Linked DNA regions of Homo sapiens: regions 1, 2, 4, 5 and 6 are each linked to region 3. Evidence: fine-mapped expression QTL. A gene starts in region 3. Each other region holds a variant in brackets. All regions are shown on one strand. Distances are from middle to middle.

Region 1 (4,089 bases), 110 kb before region 3:
AAATGGTTAAGACATTGCCATGTGACATCATCATGTGACAAGGTCTCATGCGACCACAAGCCCCAGGTGATCATTCTGACCAATAAAATGTGATAGGAACTGGGTTTCTCGCTCTTGAAACACACACACACACGTATGTGGGAAGAAACTTCCTTCTGCCTTTGAACAGGTGTTATCTGGAGCTGTTGCAGCCACCTCGTTATCATGAGAAAGCAGCTGACACAGCAGGAAGAGCAGGAAGATGGAAACCTAGAACCTTGACAACTTTCTTGAATGTATAGCCCTGGAATGCCTTACTTTCGAAGTTCCTGTTATACAACATAATTCATTTCCCTACCGCTTAAGTTTCTGTTAAGTGTGGCTTGAAGCTGAGAGGACCATGACTGATGCAGGGTTATCTAGTGAAGTAGGGGACAGAATGCCACAACCTTAAACTTTGATCCTAAAAAAGACAAAAGACAGCTGTAAGTAATTGCAGAAAGCCCCTTTAATGTCTGTGGAACAGAAGAACCATGTTGGATGGGGAAAGCAGGGGCAGGACACACGTGTCGCGTATCTATGGGGTGTTATCAGGGTTATATCTGTGACAGGATCAACTAACTTACTGGCTCTCATTTCACCTGATAACATAAGACCCTCCCCGCTGACTACACACAGTTTAGGTTATCACTCCTTATGACTCCTGCTCCCTGCCCTGCACCCTAGATTCTCTGGGACTCACTGCAGTTTTCCTGACTCTGATGGAATGTGCTGGAGTCTATTACGAGCCCTGCTTTTCAGAAGGTGCTCAACAGGCCCTGAAGATGTGCATCTGGCCGATGGTGGGTCAAAACCAGAGTTCTGCAGGCTGAGATTTTTCCTTTTATTATTATTAAACTTGGCTGTGTTTTCCTTCGGTGGCTCTGGCATCCTATGCAGTAGTGCTGGACATTTGCAGGCAGTTAAGGCCCAGTACAGCAGGAAGAATGATTTCTGTGACTGCTGGTCTGTGCAAGCCCTCCAGCTGCGGGAGCAACCTCCCTTGAGGAGAAGTTGTGGGGGTGGGCCTGGTGGGGAGGGCGATAGGCTGGGACAGAAGGAAGGATGGAATACTGGACCTGGTGGCCAGGGGTCAATGGGATGTCCTTCTCACCAGAAGCAACAGAACGCCGACTCCAGCATGCTCCCATTTCAACTAAAGTAGTGGGAGACCCACCCAATGTGCATCAAAGGCCTGGGTCCTTCTGGGCTGCACTTTGAGGAGGAGCAGCATAGTAAGGGATGGGGCGCCCATTCTGCTAGCAGAGTGATTCCTGGAGATGCAATCTGGGAGGGATGTATCCACGTGGCTGACCCCTCGTGTCCAGATGTCACATCTTAGTGTCATGAGCCTGGTATAAACATTGAATTTTTAGGATGCATTTTCACTGAGAGGCTACCACTCTGGGAGCCTCTCTTTTTCCTGCAAGGAGCGCCTCTCAAAGGAGTGATTCTGGTTCTCAGAGGCATTCTGAGCTTTGGGATCTAGTCTCAGGCTTTCCAGGGAAGGAAAAAGCTATGGCTGGATGACTTTTAGTTTTCTGCAGTGCCGGATGCCAACTAGAAAAGCTCATTTTTATCTGAAAGGAAAGAACCAGCTAGAATTGAGCATGCCCTCCTTTCCCATCCCTGTATCATGTCCTTGGTTCCACATCCCCCCTTGCCATGCTGTTGTGAAGTTGTTTTGTTTTCCTCTCTCTTTCCCATAAAAGGTCATGAGCTCTGTTTCTGTCTTTAAGATTCCCGTACTTGGTGGCACAAATGAGGCAGCCTCAACATTCTGTTGAAGGAGTGAAGGGTTTGGAAGTTCCAGGTGGTGCAGGAAACTAGACTGGCTCCCAGCAGGTAGATCTTTCCCAAACCTGAAATGGCCATACAATCCTGTATGTGAGACAGGCTGAATGCAGAGAATGAGCATTTCCAGGTGGTAGCTCTCATCTCATCTCACAAAAAAAACCAGACCACCACTGGGAGTCCTGTTCCCCGGCTTTTATGCTCACCCCTCCCAGTCACTTCAGATCAGTTAATTCTCCAGATTTACAAGCTAGAAAACTCCAGCTCTGGCACTCAGCACACAGGCCTCAACCGGGGC[T/C]GTGGATTTCAACCCAGAAGCCCAAACTTCTCAGCCGGCTTAAGGCCCCTTCCAACTGCCAGTCTGTACCACGACAGCAGTGCTGTGGGCACAATGCCAAGCACACCCATGCCAGGCAGTCCTCCTGGGCCCTGACTTGATGGGGTGCAGCCATGGGTCCTCTGGACACGTTTTGCTCAATTATACCTTCCTCTCCAGCTGCCTAACCTTGACCAAGATGGGGACCTGATTAAAAACCCCATCAGTTTCTAGCTCTTCCCATAATTTTGATTGACAACATTAAATGCTAATACAAAAACATCTTATCTCTGATAAAACAAAAGCTGACAGAAAGACGGATGCTGAAAACCAGCCATATGGTGGACACGATTCCTGGGCCTGGCCCTGTTCACAGTAGCACTCTCTGGCAGAAAAGAGATGACACTGAGAAGCTTGAGGACCTACATTTAATAAATCAAACTGTACTGGCATCATCAGAATATTCACAGTTTGCAACAGGATCAGTGCGTTTTCTCACTTGCAGACTCGGAGGTATTTCAGGAGAAGGCGACGTGAGCGCACCATTCCGATGCTTCATTCTTGACCCTCTCTGGGGCTTTCAATGTGTCATTGTGTCAGATCCCTCTCCCCTTCAGGTTTTCACGGTGCTCCTCATGCCTCCGCCCTCTGGGATCCCTTTGCCGTCTTCCGGTGTGGAAGCTTTGGCTGCTGGCCGGCTGGCCTCGAAGGAGTCCAGGTGAGATTTAGGGAGCTCCCCCTGGATGGCCAGGCCTGGCGGGGCTGGCCCCGTCTCACTCCTCTGACCTTCTATGGGACTCTCTCTTCTGACCTCTTCCAGTTCTGCAGCTGCCTGTTCCTTTGTCAGTTTAATTATTTCCCTCCCAAGGCTGTTTACTTCTTCCTCAGAAGGTAACTGGGGTAATGAAGGATGAAAGAGCTTGCATTGGTTCCCGCGGCTCTGATTTGCTGGGGAGTTGACAGCGGGCCTCCCAGCATCCTCAGGCGCTGTCAACGCCTCAGCAGCGGCACAACTTTCATCTTCTTCTTGCTTCTGAGCCTCCCCTGAAAACAGAACGAGGACAACATTAAACCTCTGGCAGCAAATCAGCCCTCACCGCCCCTCTTCTGCCAACCTCCTGCCCAGCCTACCAGCACAGGGCCTCTGAAAAAGGAGCAAGACTTTTTTGGCTCCCTGTGCAGGGCAATGGAGCCAAAGGGGAACACAGGACCCAGGTGAAACCAGCGAGCATGCATTCTAGTGATTCCTGCATTATTAACAGAGGGCAAGGGAGCACTTGGGCCATGTCATAATCCATCCTTTCCAGGCACCTGGTTAGCTTCTGTTCCATTCTCTAATGGCCGCTCCTTGTGCCCATTAAATATTTAAATTGAGGACAAAGGTTTTGTTGGTTCTGCAGCTGAGAGCCAGGGCTTGTTAGTAATGAAAAAAGGTTCCGGCTGCATTGAGGGTGGGAAGAAGAAGGATAGTTCGGGAAGGATTTAGTGCCACCCCTTCTCCACGATTCTCCATCAGCATCTCATTCCTTAATGCGGACACCTAGTGTTCCTCAATATCAAATAAATTATATGCAAATACACCTTCAAGCTCCCTCCCCTGTTGAGTTGTTGTCCCTAAACCCCTTCTCTATAGGATGGAAATTCTAGCACTGCAACAGGAAGGACATGGGAGAGAAGGGGGAGCCCTTAAAGTGCTGACATCCAGCCCTCATTTCCCTACTCACTTGCTTTGTGATCAGGATAGGACTCTCTGATGCCCCTTCTGGACCTAACCAGCAATGCTTGCTCTGCATGAGTGGGGAGCAGCATGGCGGAGCCAGCTCTTAGTACCCGGGCATGTGCATTCAATAACAGACACTGAGTTTCCCCAGAAGCCAATCTCTTCCCAGCCCTCAGGCTAAACAGTGAAGAAAGGTATGACAGAGCCACAGTGGGACTGGGTTTAGCCTGGACACATGTCC
Region 2 (4,089 bases), 100 kb after region 3:
GTGAAACAGGAGAAAACTCACCCCTTTTCCGATAATCTGAGTTGAAAAGGAAAACAATCATATTCAGAAAATGTGCTTCTTTCTAAACCTTTGGCAAGAATACGATCACTGTACCATGAACTCTCGACCTTTGGCTTTCCATTTTCCCTCCATCCTCATTTGTTCCCCCGACCCCACGCCCCTACTCCCCATCTAGCTTTTAACGAAGCAACAGAGGCTAAGGTTTGATCTGAACAGAAGACATGAACCCCGAACACTCAAAATTTGTTGACCTAGTTCTTACACAGCGGGGCCTATGTTTGGGGGTGGATCACAACTTTGTTGTACCATTTTTTTCCCGATGGAAGAAACTGTCAGCAAGAGCCTCATCTCTGTTTGTGAGTCTTAAAGGGATAAAACCATAGCACAAAGCCAGAATTATCATCTCCCTCTCACCAGAAAGCCTAGCGCTGACTTTCTAAAGTTTAGTAGGAAGCTTGTTCATGAAGACAAATACTGCATGAGACAGAGAAGGCTCTAAAATGTGTTAAGGCCTCTTGCTACTCCATGTTGGGATGAGGACAGGTTACCTCAGTTCCAAGCTACCACCATTCCAATAACAATTCTCAGAGCCTGGATCACTTTTATAACTATCCTCAGGGCCCTAAGCTCAGAAAATATGTTTTCTTGTAGAAATTATTTCCTATTCCCACGGCCCTATAGCCCATTACTTCCATCAGAGATTAGCAAAGTTTCTCCACGCTATGGCCAGGTGTGAAGAGAACAAGGGAAAATCTGCAAATTTCACCTTGGTGTTTCGAGACCTCTGCAGAGAAAATGGAGAAAAGGTAGTGAGAAGTCTCAGTGAGCTTTAGTTTAGCTTTGGTTTATTCAATTTAATTAAATTTAGCATTTAACGCCAAATAGTCTTGAATGCCACCTTTTGGTGCAAATGTTATCGACTACGACCTCTGATTTATTGTCCTGGCCCTAAAATACAATAAACTAACCTCGTAGTGGCCTCAGCTGACTGTGGGGCACCTGTCAATTACACAGCTGAGTAAGCCCCTATTTGATGATGAAAGGAAAAGTCATTTCTGTGAGATTGCAGGTTGTCTATCAGAAAAGAATAGAACTTGCAGGGTCCCTTATTTACAAACAAAGATACCTAGAAATGATCTTTACTTTCTGGGTTTTTGTTTATTTGTTGGAAGGTGGTAGCGGGGACTGGCCTAAATATGATATTTTGTTCTTGGAGTTTTGGTGTCTTTTGAGTTTCTGTAACTATTTTCTGTTTCTCATTCCTGCTGCTTCTCCTGACATGACTTGAGGCTTTGTAGATATCAGCTCTCAGCCTGAATGTTTATTTTTATAAATTGGGTAAGCAGGTTTCATACAGCGGCCTGATCCTCCTCTCTCTGGCTTTAGAAGCTGTAGAAACCCCACCTAAGCCTTTCCAATGGAGATACTCACCAATACCTTTGGCCCCATGTTGTGACAGTGGAGGCAGTTAGTATTTTGGTTTTATCTTATAACCTGAAAAATGTATAAACTGAAAGTTTGTGGCAGGCCCTGGAAAACAAAATCAAGCTTTCTTTACATTTTTCCCTCGATATGAGCTGTTTCCTTTTGATAACTAGTTGTTAACTTTTATTTTCTATTTTGCCATTGGTTATAATTTACCTAGTTATCTCTTCTTACATGGGACTCTGAAAGTCATTTGTGGGTTTAAAAGTCTGGTGTTTGGGCCAGGCGCAGTGGTTCATACCTGTAATCCCAGCACTTTGGGAGGCCAAGGTGGGCGGATGATGAGATCAGGAGATCGAGACCATCCTGGCCAACATGGTGAAACCCCGTCTCTACTAAAAATACAAAAATTAGCCGGGTGTGGTGGTGCACACCTGTAATGTCAGCTGCTCAGGAGGCT[G/A]AGGCAGGAGAATCGCTTGAACCCAGGAGGTGGAGATTGCAGTGAGTTGAGATCACGCCACTACACTCCAGCCTGGGCGACAGAGTAAGACTCTGCCTCAAAAAAAAAAAAAAAAAAAAAAAAAAAATTCTGATGTTTGTTAGTTAAATGTCCAATGAACATCTTCCTAAAGCAAAAGAACAGTCTCAACCGAGTAATCTAAGCCTCCCTGCAGTGGCCTTCTATGAAACCTAGATTGATTTGAAAATGTTCTCCTGCCAAACCCACAAGTTTATACTTTGACTTAAGAAAATGAAACACTTACAGAAATTTGAATTTCGTAAAGAAGCAAAAATAAAGCCAGGGCAGTTAACAAAAATTCTCCCAAACTTTTGAGATATTTTCCTTACCACATCGATTCATTTCTTTAGAATGTTTAAAATTTCTCTAAAACAATTTTGATAAACAGTTCTATATTCACTTTTCCCCAGTCTCTGTTGACAGTGTAAAAGAAAGACAAAGAGATTATTCTAAATATCCGTGTCTGATGAGATAGGCTCTGAATACCTGTAGTTGTGCATTCATAGTCAAAGCTGGTCACGTCATTTAGCTTCTTTTCCTGATACTCTGGTGGACCAATACACAGCACATCAGAAACGGTGGAATTTGTCATCTTCAACCACAGGTATAGCCACTTGGCTTTGCAGTCACATTCAAATTTATTACCCCTCAAATCTCTAAAAATCAAAATAAAACACAAACACATACAAAGAGAAATAGATGTGTCTGACATGTTTTGGTAGTAACACGAAACTCCAGAATTATTAACATCCTGATATATTTAAAACCCCCTAAAAATGGAGTTTAAAAACTTTTATAATTAATATCTCCTGTTTCTTGTATCTATCATTGACTTTATTTAATACTCCTCAGCACCTGGGAATTTAACTGAATAACTGTATAATGTCCAGAGAGCTCTCAGCGAGGACATATCATCTCTCCAAATGCTCTCGTCTCCACGCCATGCCAGAAATGGGAGACATATGATAGAAGAGCAGCCCCCAACAGAGGTTCTCATAAACAAAGAGGATATTGTAGGAAGACAGTTTTCACAAACACAATTGAAACTTCAAGCTCTTGTTAAAACTACGTCCAGTAGGCCAGGCACGGTGGCTCATGCCTGTAATTCTAGCACTTTGGGAGGCCAAGGTAGGCAGATCACCTGAGGTTAGGAGTTCGAGACTAGCCTGGCCAACATGGTGAAACCCCGTCTCTACTAAAAATACAAAAATTAGCTGGGGGTAGTGGTGTGCGCCTGTAGTCCCAGCTACTCAGGAGGCTGAGGCAGGAGAATCACTTGAACCCAGGACGCAGAGGTTGTAATGAGTGGAGATCATACCATTTCACTCTAGCCTGGGCAACAGAGCAAGACTACATCTAAAAAAAAAAAAAATACATCCAGTAAGAAGCAATGATAGAAGATAAAGCAGGTGAACGTGCCATCTCAGGGAGGTGATCTCCCACCCAGCAAGTGTGATTTACCATTGGCCTCATGGTGCTAAGTATAAAATGGCAAAATCCAACACAATACAAACTGTATGCTATTTCCCAGGATGCACTACTTTGTTATAGATTTTTAACCACAGCATAAAAGAAATGCATAAAAGAAAGGCGAGAGGGGATTGAAAGACATGATTAACTGGGGCACAATGACAAACACACATAAACTAAATTTCATTACTTACAGTTCAATCAGAGAGTCTAAATCACTGAAGACATCCCTTGGTAGTGCTTTTATGTGGTTATTGGCCAAAGAACTAGAACAAGAAAGTCACATTGCAATGTGATTATTATCTCATGCCCTGTCACTCTCAACTCCCTTCAGATAAAGCTGTTGACTTATAGCACGGCTTTGGTCATCAATACTGAGATAGAGAAATGAGCTTAGTTATGCAAATATAACATAAGAGATGCTGGATTATAATATACATTTTCTTTCTTTTTTTTTTTACAAAAAGCACTTTTTAAGCTCTTTATGTATATTTGCTCAACCTCAGATGGCTTCCCATGTTTCCTGGAATCAAAGCCAAAGTTCCTTCGGTGGCATGCAAGACCCTTTATTGCCTGGCTACCTCCACTCTTGCTTACCTAGGAGACCCCATCTCATCGGTTTCCAACTACTCAGTGGATCTCTGATCTAGCCA
Region 3 (4,089 bases):
TAAAATGCTTAATATGAAGGATGCACTCAAAAAATAGTCATTAGTTATTATTAAGGTGGGAAGTAAGTTAGACCCATTTTCACCTCCCCCATGGCCCCTGGCTACGTGCCCACCTCATGTTTGTGAAGTTAAGGAGGTATTACTCTGGAGAAACTCTGCTGGGATGGGCAGGAAAACTCCTGAAGGACCTACTTCAGGATTCACTGACTTATTCAACAAGCATTTTTCGAGCACCTGCTGCATACAGAGCTCTGTGTATAGGCCCTGGAATAAAGAACCAAACAAAGCACACGGCCTAGTGAGGAAGCCTATTGTTACAATAATGTGGTCAGGGCAAGGTGAAGGTTAAGCCCAGCCAACTGAGGGGCACCCCATGCCATTTAGCACTTGAAGCCTTTCCATCCTTTAGTTCACTCTCACTGTCTACGGTATGACCTTCCTCCCAGACTATATCATGAAACCCCCAGGAGTTCTTTGAGGGTAGGGGAGTTCTTTGTCTTATTCACCACTGAATCCCAAGCACCTCACAATGTACTGACTCCTAACAGGCACCTGATATGCAATTGTTGGAGTAGTGAAGATTCTGCTGCTATTTAAGGGCCTAACACTGGACTTCTAAGGAGAACTACCTCCAGCCTCCTTGACTACTAAGTATGATTCTTGATGGGACCAGAAACAAGGTCCCCAGAGGATCTGCCCCTTAACATAAAGCCTGACAGTTTGAGAAGATGGAGCCAGGCTGCAATACAATGGATCATAACACCAGACAGTTAGGAGAGCTTTCAACTACTAGACCAATGCTGAGCAAACTAAACTAGGGCAGGAGCTACCGCATGTCATTCCTCTTCAGAAACACAACGCTCTGCACACACTGGGCATGAAGCACTATTATCAGACTGACCTGGAGACCCAGAAAACGATGAAAGGAGTGAGGGAGTAGAGGGTTTCCCTTCCCATAACCCACAAGGAAAGGAAAAGAGCAAACCGATACACTCTGCATTGTGTGCACAGGATTAAAGAAAAGGAAGCCCCAAGTTGGCCTTGGCTGGAGCTTGGTTCTCAGAAGGGAGAAATTCCCCGGCATGGGTAAGTAACACCAGGAATTGCCCCCACAAATGGTGGCAAACCAGGGCAACTTACCTGGTTGCCTCCAGGTGAGAGGGAGAAATCCGCATTCCCTCTCACCTGGAGAGGCCGGCAGCTTCTCCCGGCAGGCCGGCAAACTCTTAGGGGGAACTGAAGAGCAAACAGCATAGGATCCTGAAAGTGGACCCCCAGGGTATGTTTATGACAAAAGAGTCGCAGGGCAGGGGGACACGGTGTTCTGTGCTTCCACAAATCGAATCACTTCTGCACCTGTGTTTCACTTTTTCGATAAATGCCCCTCCCCACCTTACACATGGTAGGCCTGCAGTAAACACGTGTTGATTGAATTGAGCAAGTGAATGAGTGAACGGCTGCAGCGGACCCCCGAACTCCCCCAACTCGAACCACCGCCGCAGGTAATTCCACCTGGCCCAGGTTCCACCCCAGGGCTCGGATTCTCCCCCATGGCACCACCTTCCCGTTTCAGTCCCAGGCGTCCAATTGTTTGGCTCCACAACAGTGGCGAGCGGGCAGGCAGGTGGGGCTTGGCACCTTCTGCTCCCGGATCCCAGGGCTTCAGCCTCCAATCCAGGGCCAACCCCTGCCTTGGGGGGAAGGCCCCTCCCCAAAGGCTGACACCAGATGGCGCGGAAGAAAGTGGCGCCCGCGCAGACCCGAAAGTGCAGGAGGAGCGGCGCACCTGGCGGGGTCGCGCGGGTGCGGCAGCCGCGGCCACTTGGAGTGCGCGCCCCCCTCTCGTCCCTCCCAGCTCGGCCTCTCTGGGGGCGCGGGCCCGGGGCTGGCGGCCGCTCGGCCCGGCCCATCCCGCCTGGCCGGCGCCGCGGCCTCACCTCGCTCACCAGCCCCTGCCAGTCGCTCTCAGTCCGGTCGCCGTTCATGGCCTCCTCCTCCATGCGCTGGCCGGCCTCCTGGACCCCCGCCGCCTCCTCCTCCTCGCGACGTCGCGTCGCCGCCGCCGCCCGGGCCCCGCGCGGCCCCGAGAGGGCCCGGCGCCTCCGAGCCGCTGCGCCGCCGCCTCTCGCGGCCGCCAGCGCTGTTGACTCCACGTCAGCCTCCGCCGGAGGGAAAGGGAGGAGGGGCGCGGCCGCCGGGGCCGCAGACACAGCCCGGGCCGCAGCCGAGCCCCGCCGGGCCCGCCCCGCGCCCTCAGCCCCGCGACCTCGGGCTCCGCGCCTCCTGCCCGGCCTCTAGGCAAGGGGAAGCCAGGGTCTCAGCCTACAGGTCACTCCGGACCCCTCAGCGCTCTCCGCGCGGGAGGCGGGCCCCACGGGCAGGCCTGTGTCCCCCGCAAGAAGCAAATCCCCAAATCCAGTCCTTCTCCGACCACCATCACGACTCCCACGCCTAGAATGCAAGCTCCCCGAGGGCAGGGGTTTCCTTGGTTCGCAGATGTGCCTTTGGCAAGATCCTGGCCCATAGGAGATGCTCTACATATATTTATTGGACGAATATTTGTTGAACGCAAGAATGAATGAACCACGTTTTATTATATACTTAGCATTGTTTTTTAAACTATTAGTGCTTGCTTATATATTTTTTAACGTATCATTTGTCATTAATAGAAAGCAAATGTAAAAATTGAAAATAAAGCATTATTCAATTCTAAATAGGGCCAAAAACTCTGAGGGAGATGGTTAGCATGGGTTGAGAGAGGTGTCAAAGACAAATTGGCACTGGTGGCATTCCATGGCTCATGCCTGTAATCCCAGCACCTTGGGAGGCTGAGGCAGGAGGATCCCTTGAGGACAGGAGTTCAAGAGCAGCCTCGGCCACAAAGTGACACACCCCCTCTTTACAAAAAATAAAATAATTAGCAAAAGGGGAAGGCATTGGCATTAAGCTGAGACTTCTCCTAAGAGGAAAGACTGAAAGAGAATGACAGAGGGAAGGTGAATCACACACATAAGTCAATCGTATTCAAGGTGCTGTTCCTGTGACACCTAAAATCCCCTCTTGGACCACTATCAATAGTGAGCCCTCTGTACTCGCAGAAACGCTGTGTGTGGAGATGAGCAAGTAGGTTGAGAAGTTGTGAACCCATTGTACAGTTGTGGAAGCATCATTACCAACATTTATTTATAATTTTTAGCCCCTGTTGATCCTGGATCAACCCTGTGAAATGGATGTTATCCTCATTTATTAGATGGGGAAACTGAGGCCTGAAACGTGGAGAAACAGGGACTCAACTAGGACTTCTGGCTCTAGCATCTTGGAAATCTAAGAATGAAGTATCACCTTGAAAGTTTGTTCTTGGCCTTGTTTTGCACATGATAGACTGTTTGCAAAATGGCAGCAATCATTCCCCTTCTTTGTCCCTTGCCCTGCCACTGTCTCTTTCACTCTGTGCTCAGTCATGTAACTTGCTTTGACCAAAGCAACGTTTGTACATGTGTTACCAGAAAAAAAAAAAAAAAAAAAGAAAAAAAAAGGCTTTTAAAGCAATTGTGCATTAGGATTTAACTCTTGCTTCTGCTCTTGGAAACCATGTAAATAAGCTCCGAATAGCTTGCTGGTTAAGGTAGGATTCCCAACCAACAGTCAACCATCACCAGATGTGTGAGTGAGGCCATTGCCTGCCGCCCCCTCCACGCCCCCCCACCCCCACCCGCACAGCTGATGACAAGCACATGAGTGAGCCCAGCTGAGACCAGCCGAAGAACCATCCAGCTGAGCCTTGCTCAACTAGCTGACTCACAGCATCACATACTAAATAAGTAGTTGTAGTTTAAGCCACTAAGTTTTAGGGCGATTTGCTAGGTATCAACAGGTAACTGAAATGGATGGTGACACAACTGATGAAGGGCCTGAATGGCTTGAACTCTCCCTGGCAGCCCTTCAAAAAGCAATAGTCCCTGGCATCATAATCTAAAGAAAATTTTACAACGGACTGGCTGGCCAGGAGCTAAGAAAAGGAACCAGTATACTAGTCAGCACATTGGTTTTCTGCCTGTTGTATACAACTGCAGCACTCATCCTGGGGAA
Region 4 (4,089 bases), 34 kb after region 3:
TCTAAGGGAGCTCACGACCACTGGTAAGGTCATCAGAGCTCAGGTGCAGGTTCATTTCTGCTTCAGAGTCCAGCCCCTACTCCCACAAACCCTCCTTTCTCCTTAAATGGAAAAATACCTGCATGTTTTATATGAGAACTGAATACTGAAGTTGGAAGATGCCTGTGCAGCCCCTTCTAGGACATTTGTCCTCATGCTTTAGAGGGTTCCAAATCCCCGAATGGGCTTATTGAATCACAGTTTGCTGGGCTCCACTCCCAGGCTTGTTGACCCAGTAGGTCTAGGGTGGGGGCTGAGAATTTGCACTACCCAGGTGTACTGAGTTGAATAGCATCCCACCCCCTCAAACCCAAATCGATGTCCACCAGGAATCTCCAAAAGTGACCTTATTTGGAAACAGAGGTTTTGCAGATGTAACTGGTGAAGATGAGGTCACACTGGCCCTAAATCCAGTATGACTGATGTCCTTATAAAGAGAGGAGAAGAGACACACAGATCCAGAGACACATAAGGAGGTGCCATGTATGTGGTAACAGAGGCAGAGATTGGAGCGATGCATCTCTAAGCTAAGGAAAACCAATGAATTGCTAGCAACTCTAGGAACTAGGAAGAGGCAAGAAAGGAGTCCCCGTCAGAGCCTTCAAAGGGAGCATGGCCCTCCTGACACCTTGATTTCAGGCGTCTGGACTCCAGAACTGTGAGAACGTAAATGTCTGTTGTTTTAAGCCACTCTGTTTATGATAATTTGTTATATGCCCTAACTTTTTTTTTTTTTTTTAGTTGAAGTCTTGTTCTATCAGCCAGGCTGGAGTTCAGTGGTGCAATCTCAGCTTACTGCAACCTCCGCCTCCCAGGTTCAAGCGATTCTCCTGCCTCAGCCTCCCAAGTAGCTGGGATTACAAGGGCCTGCCACCACGCCCTGCTAATTTTTGTATTTTTAGTAGAGATGGGGTTTCACCATGTTGGCCAGACTGGTCTTGAACTCCTGACCTCAAGTGATCCACCCACCTGGGCCTCCAAAATGCCAGGATTACAGCTATGAGCCACCATGCCTGGCAGCCCTAACAAACTAATATATCAAGTGATGCTGATGCTGTTGGTCTGGGCATCACAGCTTGAGAACCATTGTTCCAGGAAAAAAGGAAAGAAGGCCAAGTACCTCTCCATAGGCAAAAATAGAAGAATTTGGGTGATAAGTATTCTTGAAAAACATACTTAACAGTCAAAGATAGACACACCACCCTTGCTTGACCAATCACTCTCTCTTCTGGGACTTTAGGTTGTTAGCAAGAGACGCAGACTCAAACATACAGCATTTCTTCTTCCCAGTGCTGTGACCAGGCATCACTGTGGACAGGTGTCATGGTTCAATTGCCTAGCCTGAATCCTATCCACTTTCAGGCCAGTTCTCCAGCCTCCTTGAGATTTTGTGAGTCCCCAGTATCCTTCCAATAAATCCCTTTTTGTAAAATTACTGAGTCCATTTCTGTTGCTTGCAAATCTCTTGTCTTCATATGTGTCCTTGAAGTGGTCTGTACTTAGCTGGGTTAAAGAGGAATGAGAACTTATTTACTTTGATTTTTGAATCATTCAAACATAACACTTTTCAATTAAAATATCTTGGTTTTTTTCCTAATTATAAAAGTAATGCAAACATTGCAACAAATGGC[G/T]GGTACTTGGTAAAGATATTTTTTAAAATCTTTTTGATTGACTTTCCATTGGTTAAAACGCAGTTGCATAGCTAGTGAGAAAATAAAATGTTGATTAACTAAAGGATGTTCCTTTGAGAAAGGAATATATGTTAAATGGCAGTCTAAGGAGTCCACAGTGAATATATGACCACTTTATCCTAGCGTGGGTAGGAGCTTCATCTCTGCCATCCTAGTGGGCAAGTTAATATTAAGGCCAGCTTTGTGATTAGTCTAAAGATTTGCCTGAAAAATCTTATTTATGTTAACTACAGATGCACTTTTAGAGTTTAAGACTTAGGTTTTTAATACACAATTACTTGTGGTGCCCGCATATTCATATGTACTCATAGATTTTCCTCTCCGAACTGTGAATTATTTCCTCTTTGTAATGCCATCTGCTTCCTCCACCCAAGCCACTTTACAATGCTTTCCTAAAGTCGATTTCAATAGCTTCCTCTCTGCCCAGGAAAACAGGTTCCTGTGCAGGACAGTAATAATATTTTTGCAATCTTTGGATAAATTATGTTAATTTTCCCCCTTTATTAATTTACTAATGCATTGAAAGAATCTCAGCTGAATTTTCATCCTTGCTTTTTGCTTAGTGATATGGTTTGGCTGTGTCCCCACCCAAATCTCATCTCAAATTTTTGTTCCCATAATCCCCACATGTCATGGGAGGGACAGGGTGAGAGGTAATTTAGTCATGGGGGTGGTTACCCTCATGCTGTTCTCATGATAGTGAGTGAGTTCTCATGAGATCTGATGGTTTTATAAGGGGCTTTTCCTCTTTTTGCTTGCTGCCGCCATGTGAGGAAGGACATGTTTTCTTCCCCTTCTGCCATGACTGTAGGTTTCCTGAGGCTTCCCCAGCCATGCTGAACTGTGAGTCAATTAAACCTCTTTTCTTTATAAATTACCCAGTCTCAGGTATGTCTTTATTTGCAGTGTGAGAACGGACTAATACATGTAGAGAACTCCTCCCTCCTAACCTACAAAAAGTCACAGATGTCTATGTCAAACTGGACTCCCATGAAGTCCTCCCCACGTCTATCCTCCTCTTCCATGAAATCCAAGCCAGGGTTGCCTGAATCACCTCATCCTCAACAACATTTCTCAGAATAGGAAATATTCAAAATTTGCCACCACTCATCTTGTGGGCTTCATATAAAAAATACAAAATGCTACCTTTTAAAAATTAAAAAGCCAGTAAATTACCTTCCAAGATTCAATCTGAGTTTAGAAAATTCATTACAATGAAAAAAGAAGGAGGATTTTTTTTTTTATTGCAGATAGTTAGTGGCATTGATGGATTATGGCAGAGCCATCCGCAATATGGCCAAATAATTTCACTGGAGAGGATTTTATATAGCTACAGCTAAAATTCAATGAACTGATTCAGAAGACTCAGTATAAAATATAACAGTGACTTCGAGTGCCAAATCAATTTGGGGGCTTGAAGGGATAGGGAGAGCCTTCGTTCCCTCCCTGTTCATGGACGTTACTTTAACTGGAACTGTAAATTCACAGGCGTAGGAGTGGCAGGCAGTGGGCTACGGCAGGTGATTTAAGAAACCTATCCTGAAAAATCAGAAAGTGGTTGCAAATAGCTGTCCTTAGAGAAGCGTGTGACTCTGAAGTACATCCAAGAGAGAAAGTTCAAAGGATGTTCTCGAGGACAAATTAGGGATTTGCCATCAGGTGACAAGGGTTCTAGGTTTACAAATGGATCAACTTGAGTCCTTGTTTTCTACCTCAATCTCCACCCTTGTGAAATAAAAAGGTTGATGCAGAATAACGGCTTTCACAATGTTGGTTATCTTTGTCTTTTTAATAGTAGGAGGCTTTTTGCTCATGGATTCATCCTACTCTGCTGGATTTTCACTTTGCCTCTGCAGACCCATGCTCCAGCATTCTCACCCTGCTCTTGCTCCACAATGCTGAGGACTGCATTATTAAACTCCCTTGCCGGCCAGCTTCCACTCAGGTTTAGCCAGCAGGAGGTGCCCATAGAAGATTGGAGGATGAAATAAGATAGAGGGCAGGATGTTGACACCTACAACTCCCTCCCTCCCAGGCCACTGGTTGGCAGTGGCAGTGCTCCTGCCCAGTGTCCTCCTTCCACCATATCTCTCTTTTCCTCTCTCTGGGTTCCAGAATCATCCGTGATATGGTTTGGCTGTGTCCCCACCCAAATCTTGAATTGTAGTTCCCATAATTCCCACATATTATGGGAGGGACCTGGTGGGAGGTAATTGAATAATGAGGGTGGGTCTTTCTTGTGCTGTTCTTGTGATAGTGAATAAATCTCATGAGATCTGATGGTTTTATAAAGGGGAATTTCCCTGCACAAACTCTCTCTTTGCCATCCACTATGTAAGATGTACCTCTGATCTTCGTT
Region 5 (4,089 bases), 22 kb after region 3:
AGATCCCCAGAGACGACTTTCCTTTTCTTTAAATGTGGATTCCTGGTAAGCTGTAATCCCCTCCCATTGGTCATGAGCCTTCTACAGACTAAATTTAGAAAAATTAAATTGCAACCCAGCACTGGCTTCCAAAGTGAAATGAATAGGGCAGAATACCTGAAAACACCAGGGAAAACATTAGTCAGAGGGAAGTGTCAGGGACCTGGTGATCAATCTCACATGTCCACAATCAGAAAAGCAAAGGTCCTATTCATTTAGAAAGAAAATGGAGCTGTGCGAACCAATTTAGAGCCATCAGAGCAATGATCTGGGAGAGGAGCCTTGTTCTAATTATGACTCTGTGTTCCAACCAGGCATGAAAGAAATCACAGCAAACCTATTTCAGAGAAAGGCATTCCCAATGTGGCAGTGTCTGATGTCTTATGCATGGTGAGGGCCAGTGAGTCAGGCAGGAAAAAAAACAGAAAATGATCTTCTTCTATGACTAACAAAGAGGGGGCTGTTCTTGTGTTGCCCTGATGGAAAAATTGGTGGGATCTCAGGAATTAATAAGGAACTATCAGCCCCTGCTTGCATGTGCTATCCTAAAAGTGAGGACTTGTATGTACTTAAATGGGAGGGGCTGGGTGGCACTAGAAATCTATCCTGGGAAGATAGGATACTAAGTGGTACTTTGTCATTAACCTACCCACAGGATTATTCAGTGAATGGTAATAACGCCCAAGTCATCTTAAAATGTACTGCAGATCTTGAACCAAAGTATTTTCTGGATTTAAAAAAACAAATGCCTGGTAAGTTTTTCTAGCAAACTGATAGAGAACTTTGATTTAAAAGGCAAAAGTAATTGGATGTTGAGATTAAAGAAAAAAATGTGTCTATGAAGATGAGTATAATTTTTTGTGGAAAGTTAAGGCTTATGTTAGGGTTCTTAGTATTTATTTTATTCAAGAAATATTTATTAAGTCCTGAAATAGGCCAGGCATTGTTCCAAGCACTGGGAATACTGTGGTGAACAAGACAAAGTCCTTTTCCTCCTAGAGTTCATATTCTGGAGGGAGAGACAGATAATAAGCTGTAGACAAATAAATGAGTAATTGTGTAATTTCTTATTGAGATAATTGCTATGAAGAAAAATAAACAGAATGAAGAGTTAGAGAATATTTCAGTTATCAATTGCCATGTAACAAACTATCCCAAAATGTAATGGCTTTGAACAATGACATTAATTTTTCAGGATTGTGGGTTAGAAATTTGGGGAGGGCTCAGCTGGATGGTTCTTCTGCTCCATGTGACACCAGTTGGAGTCAACCACTTGTTGGCATTCTGTTGCCAACGATGCTGAAAGGTCCAATAAGTTATTCATATGTTTGATGCCTCAGGGCTCCTTCATGTGTATGCTGTCACCCTCCATGGTGTCATTCTCACCATTCAGTAGTCTAGCTTGATCTTCTTTGCAGCATGACAGCTGGCCTTTCCAAAGAAGACCAAAGTGGAATGTGCCAAGCCTCTTAAAGGCTAATCCTAGGACTGTGATATCATTTGGCTGTGTCCCCACCCAAACCTCATCTTGAATTGTAGCTCCTATAATTCCCACATGTTGTGGGAGAGACCCAGTGGGAGGTAATTGAACCATGGGGGTTGTTTCCCCCATACTGTTCTCATGGTAGTGAATAAG[T/A]CTCATGAAATGTGATAGTTTTATAAAGGGTTTCCCCTTTTGCTTGGCTCTCCTTCTGTCTCTTGCCTGCTGCCATGTGAGATGCCTTTGCTCCTCCTTTGCTTTCCACCAGTGTTGTGAGGCCTCCCCAGCCATGTGGAACTGTAAGTTAATTAAATCTATTTTTCTTTACAAATTACTCAGTCTTGGGTAGGTATTAGCAACATGAAAACAGAATACAGATTGGCACACTGCTACCTCTTCTGCATTCTCTTGGTCAAAGCAGGCCACAAAACTGGCCCAGACTCAAGGGTGGAGATATGGACTCCACTTTCTAATGGCAGAATTAGTTATCTATTACAAAGAGTGACTGGGAGTAGTGGACCATGTTAGATATTGTAATCTCAGGAAATGACATTTGAACAGGCACCTGAATGAAGTGAGTGGTTGAGCCACAGCAAAGATGGTCTAGATGCACACTCTAGACAGAGGGAACCATGAGGACAAAGGCCTTGAGATAGAAACACTTAGTGTCTTTGAGGATTAATAAGAAGGTCAAAGAGAACAAAGATATGGGATGTGGCTGAAGAAAGTCGACTGAGAATACGATAAGTAAACAGTTGATGGAGACAGAGAGGTAGTCAGATTATCATGAGACTTGAAGGTCATGATCAGATCTTTATATTTTATTACAAATGTGATGAGAACCTCTCATAGAAGAGTAACATGAAATGGCTTATATATCCGAAGGATCCCACTGGCTTCCATGTAGAAAATGGATTAGAGGAAAGAAGGAGGATAGGTGGGATGAGGGAGACCAGATAGCAGGCTCCATCAATCATCCTGATGAGAGATGATGGTGGCTTAGACCAGAGAAGTAGCAACGGAGATGCAAGAATTTATCAGATTCTGGAAGTATTTTTAAGTTAGACACAGCAATGCTTGCAGATAGATTGGATGTAGAAGTGAAAGAAAGCGCATAATTCAAACTTACTTCAATATCTTAGGACTAGACAACCGTGTTAATCATGGTACCATTTTCTGGAATGGAAAAGACACAAGAAGAGCAAATTTGGGGTAAGGGGTAGTAAAAGTAAAGATTTATATTTTAAATAATTCAAGGGGACTATTAGAAATCAAAATAGAGATTTTAGTTCGGCAGTATACTGCGATCTGAATGCTTGTGTCTCCCTTAAATTTATGTTAAAACCTAACCCCCAATATGAAGGTATAAGGAGGTGAGGACTTTGGGACATTATTAGGTCATGACAGCAGAACCCTCATGAGTGGGATTCGTGCCCTTATAAAAGAGACCCCAGAAAGCTCCCTTGCCCCTTCCATCACGTGAGGACCGAGTGTGAAGGCACCATCTATGAACCAGAGAGCAAGCCCTTACCAGACACCAAATCTGCAGGGCATTGCCTGTGGATTTCCAGTCCCCAGAACTGTGAGAAATAAATTTCTGTTGCTTATAAATCACCCAGTAAATGGTATTTTGTTATAGCAGTCAGAAAAGACTAGACACAATGAATATATGAGTCTAAAGTTTAGGGGAGAGGGAGAACCAAAGTTATATATTTGCGAGTCATCTATATATAGCTGGTATTTAAAACCATGAAACTGAACGGAACCTAGAACTCTCAATTTTTAGAGATCAGGCATAGGAGAGACCAGCAAAGAGACAAAAAAGAGGTGGTCAGTGAGTAAGCAGAAGTAACAAGAAAGAGAATGATGTCCAGGAGGCCATGGAAAGTGGATGTGTCAAGAAAGAGGCAATGCTCACCCAAGCTGCTGATATTAGTCAACTCAGATGAGAAGTGCTCATTGGTTCCAGAAGTCTTGGGCAACCTTGACAAGAGCAAGTTCAGTGGAGTAGTAGGGAAAAAAGAACTGATGAGAAAGTAGAGGCAGCTAATATACACAACTCTTTCCAAGACTTTCGCTTAAAAAGGCAGGGGAGAAATTGGTCAGTAGGGTCAGTGGGGGGTATGAATAAGGGAGGTTTTCAGTTTTGCTTTTTGAGGTTTTCTTTTTAAGATGGGCAATATTGCCACATATTTTTATAATGATTGAAATATATCAATCATTATATTATATATATATCATCAAATATATGTTCTAGGGAAAATCAGGATTTATTTTCTTTAAATATTTTAAATTTATTTTTTAAATGTGTAATTGACATAATTGTCCATGTTTATGGGATATAATGTAATGTTTCAATGCATGTATATATAGTATCATGATCAAATCAAGGTCGTTACCATATCTATCACTTTAAATATTTATAATTTCTTTGTGGTAACAACATTCAAAATCTCCTCTTTCCGCTTTCTTGAAATATATAGTACATTGTTATTTTCTATAGTTACTCTAGTATATAACAGGACACCAAAATGTGTCCCTCCTGTCTATCTCTTTGTTCCCATTGATCA
Region 6 (4,089 bases), 59 kb after region 3:
TGGGGAGCTGAGGTGTGGTTTTGCCCATGGCAAAAACCCTTGGTGGCTGCACTGTTATCCAGGGATGAAAGGTTAGCCTATATTTTGCCTGAGGGACGTGCTTTACCTCCATCAGTATCTGTGCCTACTCAGTCATTTCCGTCATAGGTTAACATGCTCCAACTGCATTGTGGACTCAGCCCACACCTACACTGAGATGACCGGTGTTTCCAGCTGTTGGATCTGCACCACCTTTCCAGCAACAGCTGTGGATGGCTGGCCTCGGCACATACATTCAGCATCTGCAGACAACTGCACATGGCTGGAGACTTGGACACCTGTGGCTGATGCCTGGAACGCAATGCAGCAAATTTTGGACAAAGGACACCTCAAGACCCAAGGTGCACCCACCCCCTGGCTAGCCTGTAGCATTTATGATGGGTGGGGCTGGCTACTGGGGGGACGTGTAGTACCTCCAGCCCAGGCATCATGGTGCACTGAGAAACACTGGGGTAACACCACTGAGGAGTGGGTACCCGTCATGGCTTGTGTGAACATAACACATGTCACTACACCAAAGGTATAGTGACAAGGTGGTGGAACAAGAAGCCCCACCAACATCACGCCCTAATGGATTTTGTGCCCCCTGGCAGTCTATGGGTCTGTAGTGACACAGGGTGGCCTTACCAACCAGTGGACTGGACTGGATGTTGTACCTGGGGGTGGCCTCATGTACCTGGCACTGTTCTCCCCATGTTGCCCAGACTCCCACATACCTGGGAGGCACTACTCTCTTGGGTTTTGTGAGTGCAATGAGCCCCCTGGTGGTCCTACCCCTTGGCAATGACTATCCCTGGAGTGGGTGTCAAAACTGTAGAAGCACAAGTTACTGCTCTTGCAGAGCACACCACCAGGGCTCTGAATTACACCCGAGTGGCCCTCATCCTGTTATGGATGAGGTTGATCAGATGAGAAAGGTGGTGTTGCAAAACTGAATGGCCTTTGACATAATAACTGCTGCCCAAGGAGGCACCTGTGCCCTTTTAGGAACACAATGTTGTACCTTTATCCCTGACAATTGGCAGAATATAACAGCAGCCCTGCAAAGGGTCTCATGGGAGATTAAGGTGGTCAAGACCCTTACTGACGACCCCCTACAGAGTTGGTGGGCATCTCTAGGCTCTGGCCTATGCTGGGTCCTAATAGTCATAAGTAGCATAGCTGGGATCCTAGTAGTGAGTTGTTGCTCTCTGTGTTGTTGTTGTGGGTTATGAATTCAGGGCTCTGCCCTATGGGCTTGTGTCCTTGCCCGGGGGACGCCCTCGGCCTGGGAGGTGGAGTATGAGGGAGATGACTGCACTTTAGTCAGGAGTAAGCCAAGGCAGGCTTCCAGTGCAGCATGATTCAGCAGGTTAGGAGTGCAGGTGCACAACCCTGCACATTATGCAACCTTGCCACATGAGGCACGTTAGGTGGTCACCCACATGAGCTTGTGCTTGGCTTGGAGCCACTATTGTCTGCAAAAGGTATAATTACCCTGCTAATGCTGTACGTTCGGCTCGCTCCTGCCCAGGGAGAGAGTACAGCCATGTAGAAGCTGTCTATGATTCCTCGAATGTTTTCCCAGCTATCTGCCACTCACCCACCAACTCCCTTCCTCTTGGCAAGGACATTCTAAAGTTAACCTGAAAAACAAACTAGTTCAGCCCATGATGGGAAGAGGGGGCCAGATATGCCTCATTATACCATCCTCTCTTTTAGAACTACTGATAGAACAGACTCTTTAAGTCTGATAAGAAAC[A/G]TTTACAATCTATTATCTTTGAAACATACTACCTAGAGGCTTCATCTGCATAATAAAACCTTGGTCTCCACAACCCCTTATCATAATCCAGACATTTCTTTCTATTGAAAATAAGTCAACCAGTTGCTGATCAAAAAATCTTTAAATCTTCATGACTTGGAAGCTCTCACTTCCAGTTGTCCCACCTTTCCAGAACCAACCAAGGTACATCTTACACATATCAATCGGTCCCTTATGTCTCCCTAAAATATATAAAACCAAGTTGTGGCCCAACCACCTTGGGCACATTCTCAGAATCTATGGAGGACTGGTCACTCATTTTCACTCAGAATAAATCTCTTCAAACATTCCACAGAGTTTGACTATTTTCACAGACAGAGGGAAGGATGACAAAGGGACACAGGAAAACCCTGGCTATCATGAACTTGTTTGCTGTGTTGATTGTGGTTGAGGACTAAATTCTGACCTTTTTCTTTTCTTTTCTTTTCTTTTCTTTTCTTTTCTTTTTTGAGACAAGGCTCTCTGTCACCCAGGCTGGAGTGCAGTGGTGCCATCTCAGCTCACTGCAGCCTCAACCTCCCTTGCTCAAGCCATCCTCCCACCTCAGCCTCCCAAGTAGCTGGGACTACAGGCACGCACTACCACGCCCAGATAATTTTTGCATTTTTTGTAGAGATGGGGTTTTTCCGTGTTGCCCAGTCTAGTCTCAAACCCCTGAGCTAAAGCAAGCCGCTCCCCTCGGCCTCCCAAATGCTAGAATTACAGACACGAGCCACCACGCCCAGCCTTTTTTCCTCTCTTGCCCAAATTCCTAAGAGGCCTGGGGAGTCACACACTACAAACTGTAAAATCTCATCAGAGACATTTTATTTAAACCTGTCTAACTGACTGACTTTCCAATCTGACCCTGGCATAACATCACATGACAGATAAAGAAGGAAATCAAAACATTTTACCCCAAAGTATGTTTATTTGTCACACTTTGAAATAGCCTGCAACTTTGTTTTTGTGGTGGAATTGCATCTGTAACGAATCTCTGTTAACTAGATATTTCCCCTTCCAGACCCTCCCAATCCTGAAGGGACTAACTGAGGGTCTAGCACTTTTTAAGGGTTTGAGCAGGAAACATTCACCATCTTTTGCCTGTAAGGGTGGGCACCCATGAAGCTTCATCTATGTAACAAGAACCTTGGTTTCCACAACCCCTCATCTTGACCTAGACACTCTTCTATTGATTCCAGGTCTTTAGATAATAACTTAATTCTTTTAATCAATTGCCAATCAGAAGATCTTGGAATCCCCCTATGACCTGTAACCCTCCCCTTCAAGTTGTCCCACCTTTTCAGACCAAACCAATATATACCTCACATGTATTGACTGAAGTCTTATGTCTCCCTAACACATATAAAAACCAAGCTGTAACCCAACCACCTTGGGCACATATTCTCAGCACCTCTTGGGACTGTGCCTCAGGCCTTAGTCACTCATATTTGGCTCAGAATAAACCTGTTTAAAAATTTTATGGAGTCTGACTCTTTGTGTCGACATGGTGGTGGTCCCATGGGTGTACACATATGTCAAAACTTATCCAATTGTACACTTTAAGTATATGGAGTTTACTGTATATCAACTGTACCTCAATAAAGTGCATTTAAAAAAAGTCTGGAGAAAAAGAAGTCCCCTTTTGTTTGCACTTGGAGCTGTGATTAAGCATGCCTGAGGCTACTGGCAGCTATCTTGACATTGTGAGGAGAAAACATGCTTGAGAGTGAGGCCAACCCAGAGGATAAAAAGAACTGAAAAAGGCCAGAGTTAGACCAGATTCCAGCCATCCATCGGTACTGGATCCAGCTGTGCCTACAGCAGTCTCTGGAATTTTTGCTCATTGAGACAATACGTGTGTGTGAGTGTATGATTAACCCGGTCTGAACTGAGTTTTGTTGGTTACAACTGAGGAGTTCTGTGCAACGTTATCCACAGTCCACCAGGCAGGCTGAGAGCTGCTTCTTAACCAGCAAGTGCCTCATGGAGGGATTGGGTTTGGGGTTATGGAAGTGAACAGAGCTGCCTGCCTTAAGGCAAGTAGGCCTTGCTCTGTTCCCCTTGCAGTCCCCGAGCCCGGGAAGCCCGAGAGGGAGCCCTTCAGTGCTTGTGCACTCGGCTGTTTCGCAAGAGTCACGGTCAGTTGCGCCTCTGCTTCGGAAGAGTATTTTTAGTGGCAAATAAAGTGGTGCGCAAATAAACAAACGCCTGGAACAAATCCTGCAAAGGAGAGCGCCTGTGTGCGGCCCACTGTCTAACTAGGTCAG

Alleles and levels. Alleles are on the strand shown, and positions count from the first base shown. SD is a standard deviation of normalised expression in the study named. Not every link is listed here.
In carriers of allele T in region 1, the expression in pancreas of the gene that starts at base 2,163 in region 3 tends to be lower than with C alone (small effect, 0.34 SD a copy in GTEx).

Evidence for each region. PIP is the estimated chance that this variant, and not a neighbour inherited with it, causes the effect. A credible set is the group of variants that fine-mapping cannot tell apart.
Region 1: its variant is the best candidate, but not a certain one, in a credible set for the expression of CCDC149 in pancreas (GTEx, PIP 0.59).
Region 2: its variant is the best candidate, but not a certain one, in a credible set for the expression of CCDC149 in whole blood (INTERVAL, PIP 0.72).
Region 4: its variant is the best candidate, but not a certain one, in a credible set for the expression of CCDC149 in nasal epithelium (TOPMed, PIP 0.86).
Region 5: its variant is the best candidate, but not a certain one, in a credible set for the expression of CCDC149 in whole blood (TOPMed, PIP 0.89).
Region 6: its variant is the best candidate, but not a certain one, in a credible set for the expression of CCDC149 in whole blood (TOPMed, PIP 0.75).

What each region holds. Positions count from the first base shown.
Region 1 is chr4:24,805,648-24,809,736 of GRCh38, forward strand. It overlaps CCDC149 (coiled-coil domain containing 149), which reads right to left. Exons shown (of 13, transcript NM_001395273.1): 13 at 1-3,172. The coding sequence ends at 2,742. Among named protein-coding and RNA genes, the nearest start is that of SOD3, 12 kb to the left of the region's middle. RefSeq lists an enhancer at 3,096-3,676. The variant T/C (reference allele first, on the strand shown) is at 2,111.
Region 2 is chr4:25,015,537-25,019,625 of GRCh38, forward strand. It overlaps LGI2 (leucine rich repeat LGI family member 2), which reads right to left. Exons shown (of 8, transcript NM_018176.4): 5 at 3,631-3,702; 6 at 2,453-2,622. The region is part of intron 4 of LOC102723675 (a long non-coding RNA gene); the gene reads left to right. Among named protein-coding and RNA genes, the nearest start is that of LGI2, 13 kb to the right of the region's middle. The variant G/A (reference allele first, on the strand shown) is at 1,907.
Region 3 is chr4:24,910,880-24,914,968 of GRCh38, forward strand. CCDC149 (coiled-coil domain containing 149) reads right to left here and starts at 2,163. Exons shown (of 13, transcript NM_001395273.1): 1 at 1,938-2,163. The coding sequence starts at 1,985.
Region 4 is chr4:24,944,863-24,948,951 of GRCh38, forward strand. It overlaps a transcript of CCDC149 not described here. Among named protein-coding and RNA genes, the nearest start is that of CCDC149, 34 kb to the left of the region's middle. The variant G/T (reference allele first, on the strand shown) is at 1,671.
Region 5 is chr4:24,932,602-24,936,690 of GRCh38, forward strand. It overlaps a transcript of CCDC149 not described here. Among named protein-coding and RNA genes, the nearest start is that of CCDC149, 22 kb to the left of the region's middle. The variant T/A (reference allele first, on the strand shown) is at 1,676.
Region 6 is chr4:24,970,040-24,974,128 of GRCh38, forward strand. It overlaps a transcript of CCDC149 not described here. Among named protein-coding and RNA genes, the nearest start is that of LGI2, 59 kb to the right of the region's middle. The variant A/G (reference allele first, on the strand shown) is at 1,781.